Linked DNA regions of Homo sapiens. The protein of the gene in region 1 interacts with the protein of each later gene in a biochemical or structural test. Each region holds a gene or a part of one and is shown on either strand. Other genes may lie near its edges.

Evidence for each region. The genes of interacting proteins can lie anywhere in the genome.
Region 2: the proteins of NEK1 (region 1) and LRRK1 form a complex in vitro, tested with the Homo sapiens proteins (2 studies listed by BioGRID and IntAct, with this or other methods).
Region 3: of the proteins of NEK1 (region 1) and CSN2, one has a biochemical effect on the other in vitro, tested with the Homo sapiens proteins (one study listed by BioGRID).

What each region holds. Positions count from the first base shown.
Region 1 is NC_000004.12:169,608,701-169,617,171, forward strand, and holds the start of NEK1 (serine/threonine-protein kinase Nek1), read right to left. Parts: upstream 3,884-8,471; 5' UTR 3,522-3,883; exon of another isoform or gene 3,444-3,521; 5' UTR 3,320-3,443; intron 1-3,319. UniProt on the Homo sapiens protein: Phosphorylates serines and threonines, but also appears to possess tyrosine kinase activity. Involved in DNA damage checkpoint control and for proper DNA damage repair.
Region 2 is NC_000015.10:101,068,601-101,076,356, forward strand, and holds part of LRRK1 (leucine-rich repeat serine/threonine-protein kinase 1), read left to right. Parts: intron 1-70; coding exon 71-248; 3' UTR 249-7,756.
Region 3 is NC_000004.12:69,962,729-69,970,391, reverse strand, and holds the start of CSN2 (beta-casein isoform 1 precursor), read left to right. Parts: upstream 1-4,663; 5' UTR 4,664-4,711; intron 4,712-7,663. UniProt on the Homo sapiens protein: Important role in determination of the surface properties of the casein micelles.

The sequences.
Region 1 (8,471 bases):
TAACACTGAGAATGAATACAAATTATGTTAAAATGTGCCACGATACCCAATCTCCTGTAAAACGATATACAATTTTGGCCGGGCATGGTGGCTCACACTTGTAATCCCAGCACTTTGGGAGGCCGAGGCAGGCGGATCACTTGAGGTCAGGAGTTTGATGTCAGGCTGACCAACATGGTAAGACCACTGTCTCTACTAAGAATACAAAAAATTAGCTGGGTGTGGTGGTGCAGGCCTGTAATCCCAGCTACTCGGGAGGCTGAGACAGGAGAATCGCTTGAACCTGGGAGGCAGAGGTTGCAGTGAGCTGAGATCACACCACTCCACTCCAGCCTGGGTGACAGAGCGAGACTCCTTCTCAAAAAAAAAAAAAAAAAAGAAGAAGAAATACAATTTTAAAATACAAGGGGTAAGTTTTATGTTATGTATATTTAACCACAATTTTTTTAAAAAAGCACAAGAGACGGCATGTTTCATCAATTAGAATGGCAAAATTCACAGTTGATTATTGTACTGTACTGTGGGGGAATAGCAGGAAACAATATGGTGGGACTATAAATTGGTACAAGCACTAAGGAAAATAATTTGGCAACATCTACCAAAATTATAAGGGGACAGAAACTTTGATGTAGTGATTCAATTTCTAGCAATTTACCCTACAAATATTTCCAAATGTAGGAAAACAAAGTATCTACAAAGTTATCCTCTGCAGCACTGTTTCTAATAGAGCAAAATGTAATCATTCACATACAGTCAACACAGCAACTTTTAAACTGATATAATTTCTTAATACACTGTTAGATTTTTAGGGATCAGAATAATAAATATGGCATGCTATCATTTGTTTAGTAAAAGGAAATACATAAGTATATATGCTTACAGTTACTCATATATGTGTATAAATATACATATGTATATATATACACACATGCACCCCTGGCTTGTATTAAATAATATCTATGGAGAGATACACAATAAACTAGTAATACTGCCTACAAAGAAGGCATTTAATAGTTGAAAAGATTTTTCAATCTTTTGTACTTTCTGAATTTTGAACCATACAAATGTATTATCTATTCAAAACAATAAATATTAAAACAATAATATCTGATAGAAATAGTAAGAATACTGGCTAAATCAATTTCTCCAATTAAAATCCTTCAACAATTCCCCATCTCCAAACTCCTCACTTTTGACATTCAAAGTTTTCTTATGGCATCATGCTTCTTTTCAAGTATATGAACTATGCTCCAGAAAAAAGTACCTCAGCCTCTAGTCAAATAAGACAGCTTTCCTCACATTTTACTAAGAATTTCTTTTTTTTTTTTTTTTTCTGAGACAGAGTCTTGCTCTGTTGCCTAGGCTGGAATGCAATGGTGCCATTTCGGCCTCCGAGGTTCAAGTGATTCCCCTGCCTCAGCCTCCCAAGTAGCTGGGATTACAGGAGTGTGACACCATACCCAGCTAATTTTTGTATTTTTAGTAGAGACGGGGTTTCGCCATACTGGCCAGGCTGGTCTCGAACTCCTGACCTCAAATGATCCACTTGCCTCGGCTTCCCAAAATGCTGGGAATACAGGTGTGAGCCACAGCGTCTGACCCAGAATTTCTTTCTTTTTTTCTTTTTTCTTTGAGACAAGCCTCACTCAGTCGCCCAGGCTACAGTGCAGTGGCAGTATCTCGGCTCACTGCAACCTCTGCCTCCCGGGTTCAAGCAATTATCCTGTGTTAGCCTTCCAAGTAGCTGGGATTACAGGCACGCACCACCACGCCCGTCTAATTTTTTGTATTTTTGGTAGATATGGGTTCGCCAGGTCAGCCAGGCTTGTCTCAACCTCCTGACCTCAAGTGATCCACCCACCGTGGCCTCCCAAACTGCTGGGATTACAGGTAAGAGCCACAGCACCCAGCCACTAAGAATTTCTTTAAAGCCACAAATAAGCAATTTTGGACATAATAAAATTTTGTGAGCCACATATAAACAATTTTAGAGTATATGAATGGAAAAGCTCAACTTCGATCAATCTGGAACACATACTTAGGTTAAGCATTAAGCTCTCATCAGGTGTTTCAGATATTCTATAGACAGGCTGTCTTGAAGGGAAACATGGTAAAGGCATGGCAACAGGTTTCAAGAAGTCTTTTGGCGCTGTATGCAGCTACAATCCATACATACAGTTCTGCCTAAGCAATAAATACCATCTTGAATAGTGGGAGGGGATCCATTTATCTTCTCAGGAAAAAAGTTCTTTATCTTCCTTTATTCGAAAAAGCAGAAAGCAAAAATGGAATTTCTATTAGACTTTTTTCAAAATATTTTTTCTTCTCTGTAAGTCTATTCAGACAATATTCAACAGATTTTGTAGTAGAAACTACCAACAGGTAAATAAAGAATGTACATTCGTGAAAAGGTGTCATGTTCATGACTTAGACTAGAAGGCAGGAGATTAGACAGGGCAAAATTTACTTGGAATACAATGTCAATGTACTATTCACACGACCTCAAAAGAACTTCTGTGGTCAAGTCCGACGACCTTTATTAAATTCCTGACAGTGACTTTTAACGTGAAAAAAACCTGTTTTCCCACAAAATAGGCTCCTTACATTTCACCTAGAACAATGGATATTTTAAGTGAAACAGATCTGTAGAACCTCTAAAACCAGACAAATGTAAACTAGAAACAAGGAGTTACTTCTCTCCAAATTTGGCTCCCCTCCATCAGCTCTACAATACTGCTGCATCATAAAAAAAGGTCATTAACTTAGATTGGATGCCACTTTTAATCCTTCATAAACATTTCTAATGAAACATACCAAGGCAATAAAAAATATTTCTGCTTCCTAAAGCAGATCTTAAAGAACAAAAAATAGGCCTGCAAAAAAAGTTATGATAAACTCTTAAAGTAGTACAACAATTAATGCCTTACATATGGAAACTGTGTCAAATCATGGAAACAGAAATCTAAGATTACAGGGTAACCAGCTAACTACTACTCATATTCGCTTCCTAATTAAAATTTATCAGTAATTTAAGATTGGACACAACATAAGCAATGCAAATGCTTGCTTATCCATACTAAGATTCCTATTATTTTAATCCCATTACCGCTCTAGTTTTTAAAAATACCGTAATGTCCAAGAATCGCTTTGTTAATACAGAGTGTCTTAGAGAATTAACATTTAAATGAGATTAAGGTATTTTCCCTGCAAACACTTAAGGTATCTGTGTAATCTCAATATAAGCAGTTCTACGCACATCTCATTTCCAGGATGATTTTTACCATTTTGCATGTCATTCCTTCCCCCAAGTGGAACTCACCTCAGTGACACAGGACGTTAGTAGGAATAACGGTGATGACTAATAAGCATCAGTCTAGGTGTGGCAGTCTTCCTACGGGGCTTAATAAAGCAGAGGTACCATCCCGCATTTTGAAAATGACATCCTGAAAGAGAAACCAAGACTGTCTAACCAGCAGCAGCTCACAGTCCAGACTGAAAGGGGGCACTGAGACTCTCCACACCTGACACTCGTCTTCAGTTGATACCACGGGTTTGACTCCGTCCTGTCTCGGGCGACGCCCGTAAGACAGGTCGACACTACCCCGACGAAACAAACAAACTGGTTTCTGAGCCCCGTAGAAACGGCGGGGTGCAGCAGGGGGAGTGCCTCCGTTACCGCCTCTCCAACTTCACAGAGGTCGTTGCTAGTGGCCACGGCGGGGTGGGGACGGGCGGCGTTCGGGACTGGGAAGCTACTTGACTGCCACGTGCTCCTGCCTCGCAACAGCGGCTCTAGATTCCGAGTTATGGGGACAACTGCTCGAGAGGCCAGGGTAGGGTAAGGACTCCGCAACCTAGGGTCCCAAAACCCTGGAGCGAATGCGGACTAAGGGAGAGCGGCCGGCGCGTCACCGGCGCTGGCGTGTGACGTCAGCGCGTGGAAGGCGGCACGCAGCGGAGGCGGCTGGGAAGGAGCAGTGAGGCTGGGCTAGAACCGTAGGGTCGGGCGGGGTGCTGTGCGAAGGGGCGGGCGGGGTGCTGTGCGAAGGGACGGGAGGGGCGGGCTCTGCAGGCGGGAAGACAGAAAGGACGAGACGGGAGAGATGAAAAGGATGGAGAGAGTGTAAAGCTGTTAAGAGTCATGCAGAGATGCGGGAGAGAACTCACTAGTTGAAACCAATTTGGAATATAAAGCATATAAAATTTTCCCACAGCTACTACACCGAGAAAGGGACTTTTTTATTTTACATGAAAGCGCACTACTTAGGGATGCCACATTTTAAAGAGCAATTTTGCTTTAAAAAGCAAGTCTTTTCCTATTATATCTTGGATGGTTGAAACAGAAGAATGTTTAAGTCTTGAGATATTTTTAAAAAGCTGTATGGGGTTTTCTACACCTTTACATCTAATGTATGTATAAATTACTTGTCTGTATGTTGAAGGGTTTGGAAATGTACAGCAGTCTAAGTACATTTTTTCACTGCAGGACTGGCGAAGGTAGGAAGAGATTCCCCTAAAACTATAATAAGGGATATCATCTGGCGTCATCCTGAGTGGCCCTACTCAGGGCAACTTTATTCCTAGGGACATTGAAAGATTTTGGCGGCTTTGCCAGACGATGGCGCTGCAAGTCACCCAACCTGAAAAGCTGGAGAGTTTGTTTTATCTCCTCTTCAATCGCCATACAGCTACAAAAGACTTATTTTCCTCATTCTTTCTACTTCTAGTCTACACTCCTGTGGGCCCTCCTACCCCCAGTTAGTAGGAATTATCATGTCTGAATGCACAATTGTAGTTCTACCCACATCCTTTTGTACATCAAAGTGAAGTGAAATGTTGCCAATTACTAATCTAAGCAAATTCTTTTTGCTGCTTACAGGAAGAATGGCTAGTCAGCTAACCTCCTTAGATAATTCTTTAGGCTCATGTCATAAACTATTGGTAGGACTACAAACTGCTACAGTCTTTCTAGAAGGTATGCTAGCAGTATGCATATCCTTTGACTCAGCAATTTAACTTCTGGAACAAGTGAGCAATGATTTATATACAAGGATAACCGTTATTGTTTATAACCAGAAAAACTAGAAATACTGTAAATGTATAACAATAAAGAATTGATTAAATTATAATATATCCAAACAATGAAATACTCTAAAGCCATTTAAAAGAGTAATCAAGATCTACTTTATTGACATACAAAGATACCATTGATATATTGATGAGTAAATAAAGCAGGTTACCTAAGAAGATTACCTGATTTCCCTTTCTGGTTTATATACCCCTGTACAATTGATTTTTTTTTTTATTTTTAAACAAGAGTGCTTTGGGGTTTCTTTTTCTTTAAATATTTTATTGGACTTTTCTTTCAAACAAAAAAGTTTTTGCTTCTTGCAACAAGCCAGTAACACAAGTACACAAAGATAAAGCCTATCGTCTCCTTCCCAGAGCTCTTCTGTGCTGTCCTCCACGAAACCAATGTTAACAGTTAATTAATATCATCTACATTTTTCTCTAAGTTCCTAAAAACATAAGCATGCATTTTTATATTTTATATATTAGTCTTAGTCTTTTATTTACTTATTTATTTTGGAGACAGGGTCTCATTCTGTTTCCCAAGCTGGAGTGCAGTGGCGCGATCTTAGCTCCCTGCAACCTCCGCCTTCCAGGCTCAAGTGATTCTCCCACTTCAGCCTCCCGAGCAGCTGGGACCATGGGTGCGTGCCATCACACCTGGCTAATTTCGGTATTTTTTTTGTAGAGATAGGGTTTTTGCCATGTTGCCCAGGCTTCTTGTGTGTGTGTTTTGTAGAGATGGGTTCTACCATGTTGCTCAGGCTGGTTTTGAACTCCTGAGCTCAAGTAATTCTGCCTGCTTTGGCCTCCCAAAGTGCTGGGATTACAGGCGTGAGCCACTGTGCCTAGCCGGGACTATAGTATACATATTATTTTGCAACGTACATTTTTAAATTTAATAGTATATGAACATCTATGCGGATATCAACTAATTCTTGTGAATGATATTGATATTTCATGATATGGCTATACCAAAATCTACTCCATTCAGTAGACATATTGTTTCCAATGGTATAATTACTTCTGTGGGATAGATTTCGAAAAGTAGGTTTGCTGGGTCAAAATGTATGCATATTTTTTCACTTTAACACTCCTATGTCTTGGTTATGAAAATTTCTTAACTCCTTATTAATAGTGGTAGTACAATATAGTAAATGGAAGGGGACTAGCAGTATACCTAAGCTATTCTACTAGATTTTTCAGAAATATATTCTGCCATGCATTCACAATTAAGCACTATATGTTAGATGATGGGGACAAACATATTCAAAGAATGGATATTGTTATTCCTTCTTTCTAGAAAGCAGGCAGCAAGGTGAAACAAAATAGAGAATAACAAATTAGAGCAAATGGTTGGTATAGAACTACACTATTTTCCCTTTGTGAAATTATTATGTAAATGATTTTATTAAGACTATGTATTTATGAAGGCATAAGTTCTGATTATACTCACCTAAAATCTTTTTTTTTAAATTATACTTTAAGTTTTAGGGTACTTGTGTACAACATGCAGGTTACATATGTATACATGTGCCATGTTGGTGTGCTGCACCCATTAACTCGTCATTTAACATGTTAATGCTAACCCTCCCCCCTCCTCCCACCCCAGAACAGGCCCCGGTGTGTGATGTTCCCCTTCCTGTGTCCTTGTGTTCTCATTGTTCAATTCCCACCTATGAGTGAGAATATGCATACTTACCTACAATCTTTTGTGATTAGAGAAGGGCCTAAAATACTAAATATGAAGAAAAGCATTCTCTAAAATCCAGATCTTTTACAGACATGTAATATTCAAATCCAAGGGAGAAAAAAAAGTCAATGTCTTGGCATTTAGTACTCCATCTTGCTACATTCTAGGCGAGAAATTTTTAGTTATTTAAGCCACGTTCCTGAAAGTCTACTCTAGCCTTATGTGGTTTGAACTCACTGTTAACTCTGCATAGCTACGAGTTAAACTGTAGCAGCCTACTGAATTTCTGGATCTTAATCTGGTAGGCCCAGCTCCATATGCAAAGATAAAACATCTAGTCAGCTTTTGAGTTTCTGGCTTTCTGAATTGGGTCACCTGCCAGGGCTCACAGATGAGTCCACCACCTGAAAAGAATGATCATAATCTGTATCTAGGATGAATAAAACAAAACACTGTGCCCTTAGTTGTGTGCAGCCTGAGAAATGAGTCACTTCATGAGACTGTTTTCAGGATATGATTGGCTGAAAGAGCTTTGAGTGTATCAAGTCCTACTGAGGCAGTTTTGTGGGAAACAATCACACTAAACTGGAAGACTGTTTGCCATGTCAAAGGTCTCGAATTGTAATTAGAAGTGCAAAGCTATTTCGGATAACTTCTTGTTATTTTTGGGGAAAAGACAAAAGACAAGAAAAGGTCATTTTCACTTCTATGATGTTAGTGGAATCAGGAGGAAATTCTAGACTAGAACCATGCTACTATTTTCATAATAGAATGTTTTAATCCCTTCTATTCTCTCTCTTTCCAATGTGTCTGAAACATAAACAATAAGATCAAAGTTCTTTTTCTTTTCTTTTTATTTTTGAGACAGAGTTTCACTCTTGTCACTTAGGTTGGAGTGCAGTGGCGTGCTCTCGGCTCACTGCAACCTCCACTTCCCAGGTTCAAGCGATTCTCCTGCCTCAGCCTCCTGAGTAGCTGGAAGTACAAGCATGCACCACCACACTGGGCTAATTTTTTTTTTTTTTTTTTTTTTTTTGGAGACAGAGTCTCACTCTGTCACCAGGCTGGAGTACAGTAGAGTGATCTTGGCTCACTGCAACCTCCACCTCCCGGGTTCAAGCAATTCTCCTGCCTCAGCCTCCCGAGTAGCTGGGATTACAGGCACGTACCACCGTGCCCAGCTAATTTTTGTATTTTTAGTAGAGACGGGGTTTCGCCATGTTCGGCAGGCTGGTCTTGAACTCCTGATCTCAGGTGATCTACCCATCTCAGGCTCCCAAAGTGCTGGGATTACAGGCATGAGCCACCGCTCCTGGCAAGATCAAAGTTCTTTTTCTGAAACAACTCATAAATACATGAAGTAGAGCTATACAATCTTGTTTGGTTTTTCTGTGCAACTTTTTTTAAGTGTATTCTTTTAAGTTGTTATGGTAAGTAATCCTATTTCTAGGTTTTTTTATTTCAAGGGAAGTTCAGAGTAACTTTACTGGTCCAGGGAGCAAGATAGAAGAAACTGAGATATGATTCCCAGTGCTCTTTACTTTGCCACTTCTATAAAATAGCATCATCCAACTTGCCACTCCCAGAGAGAGAATTGCTGACAGAGGGCAAGGTTTATACCACCTCCACTCACTGGTAATGTCTATCATTTGTTTCTCTTGTTTCAATCTGCCAGGGTTCCAGATATACTAGTGAACAGGCTATCCTA
Region 2 (7,756 bases), on another chromosome or scaffold:
AGGGGGAGGGTCCCAACCCCACCCGAGTGGGAACCCCTGTGAGTTTCCTCAGACCCCCTTCTCTCTGCAGGGTGCTGGTGGATGCTGCCGTGGTGGCAAAGGACACTGTTGTGTGCACCTTTGAAAATGAAAACACAGAGTGGTGCCTGGCCGTCTGGAGGGGCTGGGGCGCCAGGGAGTTCGACATTTTCTACCAGTCCTACGAGGAGCTGGGCCGGCTGGAGGCTTGCACTCGCAAGAGAAGGTAATTCCTGTGGAATGACTGTCACACATCAGAGCTGGCTGGCCCGGGGCTGCAGCCTGACCCCTCTGCCATCGGCCTCTAGTTCTCCAAGGACCTAGAAGACAGATGGAGTTCTCCCCTGAACTCCTTGCTGCTAAGAAGTGCTGAGAAGTTACTCGCCTGGCGGTGGCTCCAGGGTTCTCTGGTTCTCTGGAGCAGAGTTCTCTGAATACCCCATCCCCCAACTGCTGATTTTACAGCCCCAGGGAAGACAGTGGTATCAGGCTGGGAGCGGCCTCCTCTGGCCTCCCCCATCAGTTTGCAGGAGCAGGGGTGCAGGATCCTGTTCTGAGCTGGGTCAAACAAAGCAGGGCCGGGCCTTCCTGCCATCCCCAGGTCTCAGATGGAATTACACTAGAGGCCCTCCGCTGGGAAGCACTTGAGGTAGGGCAGGAGGGGGGCTGTGACCCCTGCCCTTTCCCCGCCAGAGACCTCAGGCTCTCAGCACATTCCACAGGCTCCTGAGTCCCCGAGGCCTGGGCCAGCTTGGGCAAGCCAAGATCAGATGTCTCTGTGTTCGGGAAGGTCTCCGTGTGGGAAAGCCCTTGGGGGATCCCGGGTGAGGAGTGTTGCCCCATCCAGAGAATGAATGAGTTCCTTTAAGTGCCACCGCCAGCAAGCCCAGAGGCACACAGTCCGAGTGCACCCGCTTAGCCTTTACATTCCTCTCCACCGACAAAAGGAAGGGGAAACTCAATCAGCAGGACTTCAGAAAGGGCCTTGTGTTTATAGCTTTGTCAAGTAAATTTGGACGCAGCTGGAGCACAGGCCCTGTTTGTTTGCACATAATAATCTTGTTTATCACTTTAAAAAATTCAGTAATATCTCAGCAGTCAGGCTTCTGGTTGTGAAATCACATTGTATGGGATTTATACCAAATTATGTATTTGCTAAACATTCACTGCACACGTGTACAGCGGAGTACGAAAAGGAACGTTGTCCACAGGGGATTTATGGATACAACAGCAAACATTTTATAAACTATGCACATGCATTACACACATGCACACACATATGCACACACATGTGCAAACATAGCCACTTTTTTGTCAAGAGTTACCCTTTGGGGCTCCTTAAACCAGAATGGGAGTTTGAAAGAGAGATCATACTCCAGCTGAAGTTTGTTGACCCTTTTCTAAAATTAAAAAGATCAAATTTAGTATTTGCTGGATATGCAGGGAGATGAGACTCTTTTAATCTCAAAATAAACAGATTCTTTCAAGAACGAAGCTGTGGCCTCTGTCTTTTGAGCGCTTATGACCACAGCACGGGCTCAGTCCCTCCCAGACCCACTCGCTGTCTGGGGATAATGGGCAGCCCCTCCTTGCCCACTGTGCCAACATGCAGGTGGCCCCTGAGCAGCTTCCATGGGTGGAGACGCTGCTCTGTCAGTCACAGGCTTGGAAAAAGCGAGTCCCCCCACTCTTTTTTTTTTTTTTTTTTTTTTTTTTACCAACCTGGGCACCAAGTCCCAGGGGGCTGAGGGTCTGTGCTTCCTGTCTACCTCCCTGCCATTCTCTCACCCTCATCCCACAGCAGGGTCTCAGGAGTCCCACTCTCCCTCTCCTCTCATTCCAGTGCCCCACAACTGCCCAGTTAACCCCCAGATGCAAGCCAGATTCCATCTGCCCCAGGCCCCAAGCTTTTGCTTTGGCATCACGCGAGGCCAGGCTGCTTTGCAGGCACCAAAATTCACCCTCTCCTACTCCTGGAAAAGCCCAGCCCCAGGCCTCACAGAGCCAGGGGAGGGGATCTCATCACATCACAGTTAGAAATCATACAGGCCTAAAGTCCCAGCTACCCAGGAGCCAAGGCAGGAGGAACCCTTGAGCCTGGGAGTTGGAGGTTACAGTGAGCTATGATCACACCAGCTTTCTAGCCTGGGTGACAGAGCAAGACCCAACTCTTAAAAAAAAAAAAAAAATACAGGAAATGACTAATGAACTTGACTCCATGAAATTGAAACTTACGTGGAAAATTAGTCCAAAGCCTAAAAGACTAGCAACTGAGAAAAAAAAACATTGCAACACAAATGAGAGACAAAGACCTCACTTATCTTCATTACAGAGAGTTCGTAATGTCAATAAGAAACAGAAAACCGGAAAGGCAAACAGGTTAAGGGCATGGGCAGCAATTGAATTACAAAGAAACAGACAGACCCTTAAACATCAATGCTTGACCTCACCCAACAGCAGGGAAACAGTCTCCACAACAGTAAAATGTTGCTGGGATGGGCCCAGCATTCAGCATGGTCCCTGCAACTTTGGCCTCTGCCCAGTGACCTCTGGCGGGTGTAGAAGAGCTCATGCTTCAGTGAGGGGGTGGGGGGCACCCTGAGGACCCTGTCAACATCAGCTGGACCACAGGCATCTCAGATAGATGTCACTTACCACCCTCATGTTGGCAGAGGGTGGTAACCAGCCAGCATCTCCTTCTTAAACACCTACTAAGTGTCAGGCACTGTGACCGGAGACACAGTCAAGAATCTCTGTGTTTTTTTTGTTTTGTTTTGTTTTTGTTTTTTGAGACGGAGTCTCGCTCTGTTGCCCAGGCTGGAGTGCAATGGCGCGATCTCAGCTCACTGCCACCTCCGCCTCCCAGGTTCAAGCAATTCTCCTGCCTCAGCCTCCCGAGTAGCTGCGATTACAGGCGTGCACCACAATGCCTGGATAATTTTTGTATTTTCAGTAGAAACGGGGTTTCACCATGTTGGCCAGGATGGTCTTGAACTCCTGAGCTCAGGTGATCCGCCCGCCTCATCCTCCCAAAGTGCTGGGATTACAGGTGTGAGCTACCTGCGCTGGCCGAATCTCTGCTTTTAGGAGCTCACTCCTCATAGGTAGAGTTGACAATAAGCACACAAACAAGTGAGATAGCAGGGCAGCCGGACCACCCAGTTGGGCAATTCGTGGCTTGGCCTAGGAACGTTACATTTGACTGAGGCTGGCGAGGCCTGCAGCCTGCACCAGGAGGTACAATGTGAGACTGAGGAATGGGAAGAAGGCATTCCATGGAGCTCTGAGGGCACTGGGTGCAAGGGCCTTGCACATGCAAAGACCCTGTTGTGGGTTCAAGCCACTGTGTGGGAGGGACAGGAGAGCCTGGCGTGGCTGCGGCCTTGAAGGAGGGGACTGTGCACACAGAATTGCAAGTGGGGGTCTCCGCGGAAGCTCCTGGCAGTTTTAAGCAGGATTATTAGATGATTCAGTCAACTTTACAACTCACTTTGCTGAATGGAGGGTGGATTAACGAGGGGGTAGTTGGAGGCTACCCCTTGGAGGGCATTCTGGACTTATCTACCAAAATTTCAAATGCACATACCCTCTGACCCAGCAGTTCCACTTAAGTATTTGGTCCTGAAATCTTGGTAAAAGTGCCCAAAGATACAGAACAAGGATGTTCACTATAGCATCTCTTAGAATATGGCCCCAAACAGGAAGCAACCCCAACCTCTATCATGAGGGAGGTCATAAAATTCCTGCACATGCAACAGTGCCATCCTCTGCAGCCTGTCAAAGAGGCAGGCAGCACTAACTGCTGGACTGGAATGTTCTCCAAGATATAATAAATGCATTTGTTTGAAAGCAGCTTGCAGCACAGTGCGTCAGGCCTCTGAGCCCAAGCCAAGCCATCGCATCCCCTGTGACTTGCACGTATATGCCTAGATGGCCTGAAGTAACTGAAGAATCACAAAAGAAGTGAATATGCCCTGCCCCGCCTTAACTGATGACATTCCACCACAAAAGAAGTGAAAAAGGCCGGTCCTTGACTTAACTGATGACATTATCTTATGAAATTCCTTCTCCTGGCTCATCCTGGCTCAAAAAGCTCCCCCACTGAGCACGTTGCCACCCCCACTCCTGCCCGCCAGAGAACAAACCCCCTTTTTCCTTTACCTACCCAAATCTTATAAAACGGCCTCACGCCTATCTCCCTTCACTGACTCCCTTTTCGGACTCAGCCCACCTGCGCCCAGGTGAAATAAACAGCCTTGTTGCTCACACAAAGCCTGTTTGGTGGTCTCTTCACATGGACGTGCATTAAATTTGGTGCCGTAACTGGCGCGGGGGGAGGGGGGGGGGAACCTCCCTTGGGAGATCAATCCCCTGTCCTCCTGCTCTTTGGTCCATGAGAAAGATCCACCTACAACCTCAAGTCCTCAGACCAACCAGCCCAAGAAACATCTCACCAATTTCAAATCCAGTAAGCAGCCTCTTTTTACTCTCTTCTCCAACCTCCCTCACTATCCCTCAACCTCTTTCTCCTTTCAATCTTGGCGCCACACTTCAATTTCTCCCTTCTCTTAACTTCAATTCCTTTCATTTTCTGGTAGAGATAAAGGAGACACGTTTTATCCGTGGACCCAAAACTCCAGCGCCGGTCACGGACTGGGAAGGCAGCCTTCCCTTGGTGTTTAATCATTGCAGGGACACCTCTCTGATTATTCACCCAGGTTTCAGAGGTGTCAGACCACGCAGGGACGCCTGCCTTGGTCCTTCACCCTTAGCGGCAAGTCCCGCTTTTCTGGGGAATGGGCAAGGACCCCAACCCCTTCTCTCCGTGTCTCTACCCCTTCTCCGCCTTTCTGGGGGGCAAGAAACCCCCAACCCCTTCTCCTTCACCCTGAGCGGCAAGTCCCGCTTTTCTAGAGGAGGAGCAAGTACTCCAACCTCATATCTCTGCGCCCCAATCCCTTATTTCTGTGCCCCAACCTCTTATCTCTGTGCCCCAATCCCTTATTTCCATGCCCCCACCTCTTATATCTCTGCACCTTGATCCCTTATTTCCACATCCCGACCTCGTATCTCTGCACCCCGACCCCTTTCCCACTTTTCTGGAGAGTAAGAACCCCTGAACCGCTTCTCTCCGTGTCTCTACTCTCCCTTTTCTTTAAACTTGCCTCCTTCACTGTAGGCAACCTTCCACTCTCCATTCCTCCTTCTTCTCCCTTAGCCTATGTTCTCAAAAACTTAAAACCTCTTCAACTCACACCTGACCTAAAACCTAAATGCCTTATTTTCTTCTGCAATGCCGCTTGACCCCAATACAAACTCAACAGTAGTTCCAAATAGCCGGAAAACAGCACTTTCAATTTTTCCATCCTGCAAGATCTAAATAATTCTTGTCGTAAAATGGGCAAATGGTCTGAGGTGCCTGACGTCCAGGCGTTCTTTTACACATCAGTCCCTCCCTAGTCTCTGTTCCCAGTGCAACTCATCCCAAATCTTCCTTCTTTCCCTCCCGCCTGTCTCCTCAGTCCCAACCCCAAGCATCGCTGAGTCTTTCTAATCTTTTCTATAGACCCATCTGACCTCTCCCCTCCTCCCCAGGCTGCTCCTTGCCAGGCCGAGCTAGGTCCCAATTCTTCCTCAGCCTCCGCTCCTCCACCATATAATCTTTTTATCACCTCCCCTCCTCACACCCGGTCCGGCTTACAGTTTCCTTCCGTGACTAGCCCTCCCCTACCTGCCCAGCAATTTTCTCTTAAAAAGGTGGCTGGAGCTAAAGGCATAGTCAAGGTTAATGCTCCTTTTTCTTTATCCCAAATCAGATAGCGTTTAGGCTCTTTTTCATCAAATATAAAAACCCAGCCCAGTTCATGCCTCGTTTGGCAGCAACCCTGAGACACTTTACGGCCCTAGACCCTAAAAGCCCAAAAGGCCGTCTTATTCTCAATATATATTTTATCACCCAATCTGCTCCCTACATTAAATAAAACTCCAAAAATTAAATTCCGGCCCTCAAACCCCACAACAGGATTTAATTAACCTTGCCTTCAAGGTGTACAATAATAGAAAAAAGTTGCAATTCCTTGCCTCCACTGTGAGACAAACCCCAGCCACATCTCCAGCACACAAGAACTTCCAAACACCTGAACTGCAGCGGCCAGGCATTCCTCCAGAACCTCCTCCCCCAGGAGCTTGCTACAAGTGCCAGAAATCTGGCCACCAGGCCAAGGAATGCCTGCAGCCCAGGATTCCTCCTAAGCCGTGTCCCATCTGTGCGGGACCCCACTGGAAATCGGACTGTCCAACTCACCTGGCAGCCACTCCCAGAGCCCCTGGAACTCCGGCCCAAGGCTCTCTGACTGACTCCTTCCCAGATCTTCTTGGCTTAGCGGCTGAAGACTGACACTGCCCGATCACCTCGGAAGCCCCCTAGACCATCACGGACGCCGAGCTGCCAGTAACTCTCACAGTGGAAGGTAAACCCGTCCCCTTCTTAATCAATACGGAGGCTACCCACTCCACATTACCTTCTTTTCAAGGGCCTGTTTCCCTTACCTCCATAACTGTTGTGCGTATTGACAGCCAGGCTTCTAAACCTCTTAAAACTCCCCAACTCTGGTGCCAACTTAGACAATACTCTTTTAAGCACTCCTTTTAGTTATCCCCAGCTGCCCAGTTCCCTTATTAGGCTGAGACACTTTAACTAAATTATCTGCTTCCCTGACTATTCCTGGGCTACAGCCACACCTCATTACTGCCCTTCTTCCCAATCCAAAGCCTCCTTTGTGTCCTCCTCTTGTATCCCCCGACCTTAACCCATAAGTATAAGATACCTCTACTCCCTCCTTGGTGACCGATCATGCACCCCTTACCATCTCATCGAAACCTAATCACCCTTACCCCGCTCAACACCAATATCCCATCCCACAGCATGCTTTGAAAAGACTAAAGCCTGTTATCACTCTCCTGCTACAGCATGGCCTTTTAAAGCCTATAAACTCTCCTTACAATTCCCCCATTTCACTTGTCCTAAAACCAGACAAGCCTTACAAGTTAGTTCAGGATCTGTGCCTTATCAACCACATTGTTTTGCCTATCCACCCCATGGTGTCAAACCCATATACTCTCCTATCCTCAATACCTCACTCCATAATCCATTATTGTGTTCTGGATCTCAAACATGCTTTCTTTACTATTCCTTTGCACCCTTCATCCCAGCCTCTCTTCACTTTCACTTGGACTGACCCTGACACCCATCAGGCTCAGCAAATTACCTGGGCTGTACTGCCCCAAAGCTTCACAGACAGCCCCCATTACATCAGTCAAGCCCAAATTTTTTCCCTATCTGTTACCTATCTCAGCATAATTCTCATAAAGACACACGTGCTCTCCCTGCCGATCATGTCCGATTAATCTCCCAAACCCCAACCCCTTCTACAAAACAAGAACTCCTTTCCTTCCTAGGCATGGTTAGTGCAGTCAGAATTCTTACACAAGAGCCAGGACCGCACCCTGTAGACCTTCTGTCCAAACAACTTGACCTTACTGTTTTAGCCTAGCCCTCATGTCTCTGTGCAGCGGCTGCTGCCACCCTAATACTTTTAGAGGCCCTCAAAATCACAAACTATGCTCAACTCACTCTCTACAGTTATCATAACTTCCAAAATCTATTTTCTTCCTCATACCTGACATATATACTTTCTGCTCCCCGGCTCCTTCAGCTGTACTCACTCTTTATTGAGTC
Region 3 (7,663 bases), about 100 Mb from region 1:
AAACAAATGATATATAGAATGGACAAGGCATGCTTGTTTTTGTATTACTTTCTTAGAAACCTTAACTTTGTTGCCTGTGGCCTTGGCAACTCAGAGCTAAACCACAAAGCCACATTGGGTAGCTAGGGCCTTTCCTATTTGGACTTAGGACGCTGGAGTAATTTCATCATTTCTTTTCCTGGCTTCCTCCTGGCTCAGTATGAACATAAAATGAATATCAGCTGAACAATTCAAATGTATAGTAGACATTGACCTGGGTTTTCTGAGAAATATGAAATATATGTGACAATCAGGAGTGTCCCCCTCATTCATAGATCTAGGATGATATTAATGCAAGGTATATTATAAAGAAAAATAGTTATGTAGGTCTATACTCAGCTTATTTAATTTAGAAGGGCATCTATTTGTGCTTAAGTCCTGAATATATCTGTCATAGGCAGTAAATAGAAAAAATAAAAATTATAAGAATGAGTAACATCCAACACAGTCAGCCAAACACTTATGAATAGCAATCACTAAAGAGGCAAGGAAATTTGTAGACTTATTTTGTAAATGGGCACAACTCAAGTATTTTGAAGCCTACCTCAGTCTCTACTTTCGTACTTTGACCAAGACCCTGCTCTTTTCTGGGATTCAGTATTCTTTTTTGCCTCAATTTTCTGTACTTTCATAAACATTAGCAATCAATATTTACCTACTGGAAAACCAAAACAAAAACAAAGAACGTGAGCTCAAACTTGGTCAGTTTCATTTTAATAAATGTGTACCTGTATCATTTGTTCTCTAAAAATAGCCATTCTCTAAATGTTACTGTCCATCTTAAATTCTTCAATAGATCCCTCCATCTGCAGAATAAAATTCACATTCCTAAGGAGCAAAGCATGCTTTGTCCATCGTCGTCTGATTGCTTTCTCTTTTTGTGTTCACATTTTCATCCTCTCTCTTCCTTGAACTTCATTATCCAGGTTCACTACTTGATTTAGTTCTAGTTACTTGTTTCTCATATCCAAGACTACAGTCTTTAACTATTTTTAGCTAGAATTCTCTATCCTCCTCGATTAACTGCTTTATCTGGCTTCAAGATTCTGCTCAGGACTCATGGCCTCATGGAGATTCTATTTTCCTCTCCCATGAATCAACTAAAATGAACTAAGTATTCTCCTTCTGTCAATTGCACCTTCTTACTGCTTTATTAGCATATTCCTTACATGTCGTAACAAGTAGATTTTTATGTCTGTTTTCCCACGAAGGTTTTGACCTCCTTGAGGTCAAATGTATCTTTTATTTTTCATTTCATTCTGGATAATTTAGGAAATGCCTGCAAACATAGATATTTAATATGAAATACATTTTCCTCTAACAAACTTTATGTTCACCTATTTTCAGCATTCTGAATGTATGGCTATTCCTTGGATCTAGTCATCATACAGAAATTCTCTTCTTTCTAATGCTGAAATTCCCAAATGAAAAAATCTCTGTTTTTGTACTTCTCAAAATTGGTATCTTCTTAGGCCAGGTCTTTGCCTTTCTTGCCATCTCTAGTCATTCAAGCCCTCTTTTTAGTATGTTAGCTTAAACAATACCTGATGGTTTGCCATTTTTAACACAAACACTAATAATCCCAACCCTATCCTAACAATTCTCTTAACCTATTGATACTAAATCTCCGCCATCTTGCCATACAACTACTTAGATAAAAAAATCTGATATATAATCTCATATAAGTCATAATTATTGCTCGTGGATTTGTTATTCATTTTCATTTTCACATTAACCAAAAATTTCTGCTCTTTCAAAATTACATATATTTAAGATGTACAACATGATGTTTTGATACTTATATAGTGAAATGATTACTGTAGTCAAGCAAATTAATATGTCCATCACCTCACATAGGTTACTCTTTTTATCTTGTGGTAAGAACATCTAAAATCTACTTTCAGCAAATTTTTATTATACAATAAAATATTAATGATTATCATCCTCACACTGTACATTACATGTCTAAACTTATTCATCCTACATAACTGCAGCTTTGTTTCCTTTGACCTACATCTCCTTATCTATCTTCCACCCTGAACCCCTGATACCCATCCTTCTACTCTTTGTTTCTATATATTCAATTTTTAAAACAAGATTCCACATATAAATAACATTGTGTAATATTCGTCCTTCTGTATCTGGCTTAGTTGACTTAAAGATTCAACTATGTATAACCATGTCCTTCAATTTCAGTTGAGAACTCCCCCTTTCACCTCACTAGAACATTAAGACCATTTAACTTCAACTTCTCTACCTTTTATCTCAAACATGTATTGTATCTACTTATCTTCTTATTCCTTTTTGTTTTCTTAGGAAAACTGGTACATTTTTTATAGGTCTTATTCTTTTCTCCATGACTGTACAGGAACTTGTTCCATTAATTTACTCCCACTTCTTTGGTATGTTTCAACTCTTTCCTTATTGGCCTCTTTCTTGTAAGCTACAAGTCTTCCTTACCCTAAAAATACCTTCCCGTGGTTCTGATTATCCCTGTACACCTAGTCACAATCTTACAGTTCTCCTTATCTCCTCTTCTAAGTTTCTCAGAAGGGCAGTACACATATGTTACTTTTAATTCCTCACAAATTACTTACTTCTTAACCATTTGGAGTGTATCTCAATCAGCTGTGTAGCATTTCACTGTTGACCTCACTTGCTTCCTCTAGCAATGCAGGATATCAAGGAGAGGAAGTGGATTCTGTACTCTCTTATTCTTGATATCGCAGGTTTTTTTTTTTCCTATTTCCTTTTGCTATACCAGCCCCTGTAAAAGAAAGGATACTTGAATTTTGTTTTGTACAATTTCTTTTCTCACTTGATACTCTTTCCCTAGAGACCTTCACTTACTCCTTTGAAGGGAGAAATTACCTTTAAAAATTATACTCATGATTATTTCTTGAGTATCACATTTAATTTAAAACATCTTCTGGACACCTTCAAATTTACCACGTACAAGGTTTTACTCAGTGTTTCATTTCTAATTTCAGCCTGGTTTCATATTTTGATTTATAACATGGCTAACTTTTCAGTCACTCAGGCATAATATATTAATTCATTTCCCCAATTTTTCACATTTCTCGTATTTTAATGAGAAGTTTGTCTTTTTATTGCCTAAGATGCCCAGGACCATTTCCCTACTTGAGATCATCATAATGTCTGTCTTAGGCTACTGCAATAACATAACATAACAACTTCCTTTACTAGGTTACCTGATTTGTTGTCATAAAGTCATGAAATCCAAGAAATTTTACAATCCATTTTTCTTTCAAATCTCTAATATATTTGCTTCCACTGAATTATGTCACAGTGCATGCCTGACATTCACAGTCATCCATGATCTGATTCTATCAAACCTCTGCAATTGTAACTTGCAATGTATGCCCTCTGAATATCCTCAAACTGGTATGTTGCTCTTTCAGTTCCTGTGTTTTCTTCAGCCAAAATATCTATCCCCATTTAATCATCTCGCAAAATTCTACTCATTCTCTAAGGCTCAACTAAAAGAGCAGTTCCTTAATGGCAAGCTCCCCTGCCACACACAGCACAGAGGCCCTACTTTTCCAATTCAGGCATAATTAAATTGTACATATTTCAACCAAATGCTACATTGATAGATAAATTTTATAAAAAATTATCAGAAGGTTAAAACATGGGCTCTGAGACTCACATGTGATCAAACAGAATCACATGTAGTCAGACAGATCTGAGTCCAACTGGTATCTTTGCCATTAACAATATGGTTTTGAGCAAGTTACTTAACCTTTTGGCATCTCTGTTTTCTCAACCTAAATATGAAGAGGAGAGCTACCTCATGATGTTCTTGTGCAGATTATACAAGATAATATCTTTGCTTAGTGCTTGGCAAAGGGTTAGAACTAAGCAAAAAAACCCATCATTAATATTATCATAATTATGCTTGACCTGAAAAGAGATAATCAATATTAAAAGGTAAATAAAACTCCGTGATACTTTGCAAAATTTTTATTACAGATTTACTGAAGATTTTGCCTATACCAGCCACCCAGATTCCCTCTTCAAGTTATTCCATTACAGAGGAAAGTTTATTTATCTTGTGTACAAAATATTTGTTTTAACTAAATTATTTTTTTTTCCAAATCAAGTGGCCCTGGGAGAAACAGTTTGCCTCACATAACTAAGCTACCATCATGGACTTGTTATCTTGTCAGTTTCTTCATTTCAGCATAAAGCACTAACAACTGCTTAGGTTCACATGAAACTGTGGCCTTTGTGAAGCCCTGTGTATATCTAGCGTTCACATACAATTTTCCCACAACTGAAATCTCAAGGCCCCACTAGGCCCTAAAGAGACCTAATTATGTCCATAATAACTTGGGGACAGGGCCAGAGTATCACTGTCCTCCAGTCATTGTCTTTTGTTATTGAATAATTGCATTTCCTGGACAGGTTTCTTTTATCAACTTGTGAATTGTTCCCTTGTTATAATGATGCCCAGAATTTCTGGGGATATGTAATAGGCAGAAATCATTTTCTAATCATGTGGACTTCTTGGAATTAAAGCTCGCTATTGATCTTATTTCAAATCACAAAATTAGTGTGTCATTAAATATAGTATATAAACAGTCACAGAAGCTGATGGACCATCATCCATCCAGCACTACCTTCACTTCTCTTCAATCTTGGAAAAACGGTAAGAATTTTAGATACAAATTTGTTGTATCTTCTCCTAACCATGTATTTCAAAGTAGCTTGAGCTATAGAAGGAACGTAGTTACTTAAAATATAGTGTTTGAAATAAAAGTATTTAAGGTAGTACTGAGATTATTTTTAACACTTAGGCTAAAAAAGATAGAAGTGCCCAGAAGAATTTGGTAATGACATATAGCCTTCATGAGTTTAAGAAAATATAATAGCTAATTTTATGCATATATATATATATATATATATATATATATATATATAGTATGAGGCTAGTTCATAGTTAATATTAAAAGGAGATTCATTTTTTTAATTAATCTTCCAATTTGATTTAGCATATCACAGTTATAAAAAGAATTATACTTCAATTATAGTATGGGTAGATAAATAATTACTGGAAAAGCTTTGTCCAGCAGGTAGTTTACAGCAGTAGCATACTGAGTTGAGAAATGGAGGGAATGGTATGGGGGCATTTACTACTTTAAATGTTTATAAACAATGTTTTTAGAAGAGTTTACTCATCAAACTTGTCTAGAGCCTCAAACTTCCCAGTTTATTATCTAGTTTGTAATATTTCAAAACAATATTAAAATGAGACAGAAATACAGAATTAAGTAAAAAAGAAACAATGTGGTTTACTTTGTAAGAAAATTCTTAATGGGGTAGAAAAGACTTGGAAACCATAAACAAAGATAATAGATGATATAAAAGAAAAAGTAGCTTAGAGTGTACCAGTTGATAATGAAGCTCTGGCTTAAAAATTAGTATATAAAAGTATACCAGTATGTAGTATATTTATAGTATAGAAATGAGTATAAAAACTAGTATAATTAGTATTAGTATATATTAGTATATTAGTATATAAATTAGCATTGTAATTATACATTCGTATATAAAATTATTATATATATTAGTAGATTAGTAATAAAACTAGTAAAGTTTATATTACTTATAAAATATAGAAAATGCTGTGGGATCTTCCCTATGTGTAATTATATATAATAGAGTGTTATATTCTGTTTCTGAACCCTGACATAAAAATTTGGGAACTTATAGTGGTCTTAGGCAAAGTAAAATTAATAAAAACTTAATTAACATTCATAAAAAATCTAGAAAAAATATTTGTTTTCTGTAATAGAATTATGTTCAACCTTCAAATATTGAAAAGAACATCTCTCAAATAAATTAAAGACTTTTTTGATGAAGTATTTTAGTTCAAAAATTTAGTTCAAAAATTGAGTTTCAATATCTGAGAATGAAGATTTGAGTGGTGAGTAATATTGTGGCACAAACATTATTTTGAAATAAATTACAAAAAAATGTAAGAACACATAACAAGGAGATGATTTAGTATATTTTGGTCAAAAATATTAACATATATTTCACAAGAAGAGGTAGTCCCAAGCTTAGCAGTGGGCAAGAGGCTCTGACCCCTTGGCGGATCATCAAGAGAATCGTGTGTACATTTCAATAAAGAGAAGAGAAGAAGCCTAGTGTACAATATCTAAAGTCATGTGGCATAAAGGAGAACAGACATTATTAGCTATGTGGGGAAGATGAATATAAACGGAGAAGAAACAAACTCAATAGTCCAATAAAGTCTCTGGATAGTGACACAAATAAGGAAAGTGTTAAAATGAAAACCTCAGTCTTATTGGAAATGAGGAGAAATAAACTAAAATAGTCATGGTAACCGTTTAGTGAAAAGAAAAAAGGTAAAAATAAAATGTGACTTTTTTGTACACATTTTCTTGATCAGTCTCTTCCAGTAGAACTGAGGCTCCATGAGGGAGTAATATCAGGACTGTAATATTTTGTTCATTGCTGCGGTCCTGGTCCCTAGACAGTGTCTGGCAAGAACAGATTCTAAAGAAATATTTTTAAGTTAATGAATAAATCTTTTTTTAAATTTTATTTGTCTTTTGAAATTATTATTATTATACTTTAAGTTTTAGGGTACATGTGCACAAAGTGCAGGTTTGTTACATATGTATACATGTGCCATGTTGGTGTGCTGCACCCATTAACACGTCATTTAACATTAGGTATATCTCCTAATGCTATCCCTCCCCACTCCCCCCACCCCACAACAGCCCCGGTGTGTGATGTTCCCCTTCCTGTGTCCGTGTGTTCCCATTGTTCAATTCCCACCTATGAGTGAGAACATGTGGTGTTTGGTTTTTTTGTCCTTGCGATAGTTTGCTGAGAATGATGGTTTCCAGCTTCATCCATGTCCCTACAAAGGACATGAACTCATCATTTTTTATGGCTGCATAGTATTCCATGGTGTATATGTGCCACATTTTCTTAATCCAGTCTATCATTGTTGGACATTTGGGTTGGTTCCAAGTCTTTGCTATTGTGAATAGTGCCGCAATAAACATACATGTGTATGTGTCTTTATAGCAGCATGATTTATAATCCTTTGGGTATATACCCAGTAATGGGATGGCTAGGTCAAATGGTATTCCTAGCTCTAGATCCCTGAGGAATCGCCACACTGACTTCCACAATGGTTGAACTAGTTTACAGTCCCACCAACAGTGTAAAAGTGTTCCTATTTCTCCACATCCTCTCCAGCACCTGTTGTTTCCTGACTTTTTAATGATCGCCATTCTAACTGGTGTGAGATGGTATCTCATTGTGGTTTTGATTTGCATTTCTCTGATGGCCAGTGATGATGAGCATTTTTTCATGTGATTTTTGGCTGTATAAATGTCTTCTTTTGAGAAGTGTTTGTTCATATCCTTTGCCCACTTTTTGATGGGGTTGTTTGTTTTTTTCTTGTAAATTTGTTGGAGTTCATTGTAGATTCTGGATATTAGCCCTTTGTCAGATGAGTAGATTGCAAAAATTTTCTCTCATTCTGCAGGTTGCCTGTTCACTCTGATGGTAGTTTCTTTTGCTGTGCAGAAGTTCTTTAGTTTAATTAGATCCCATTTGT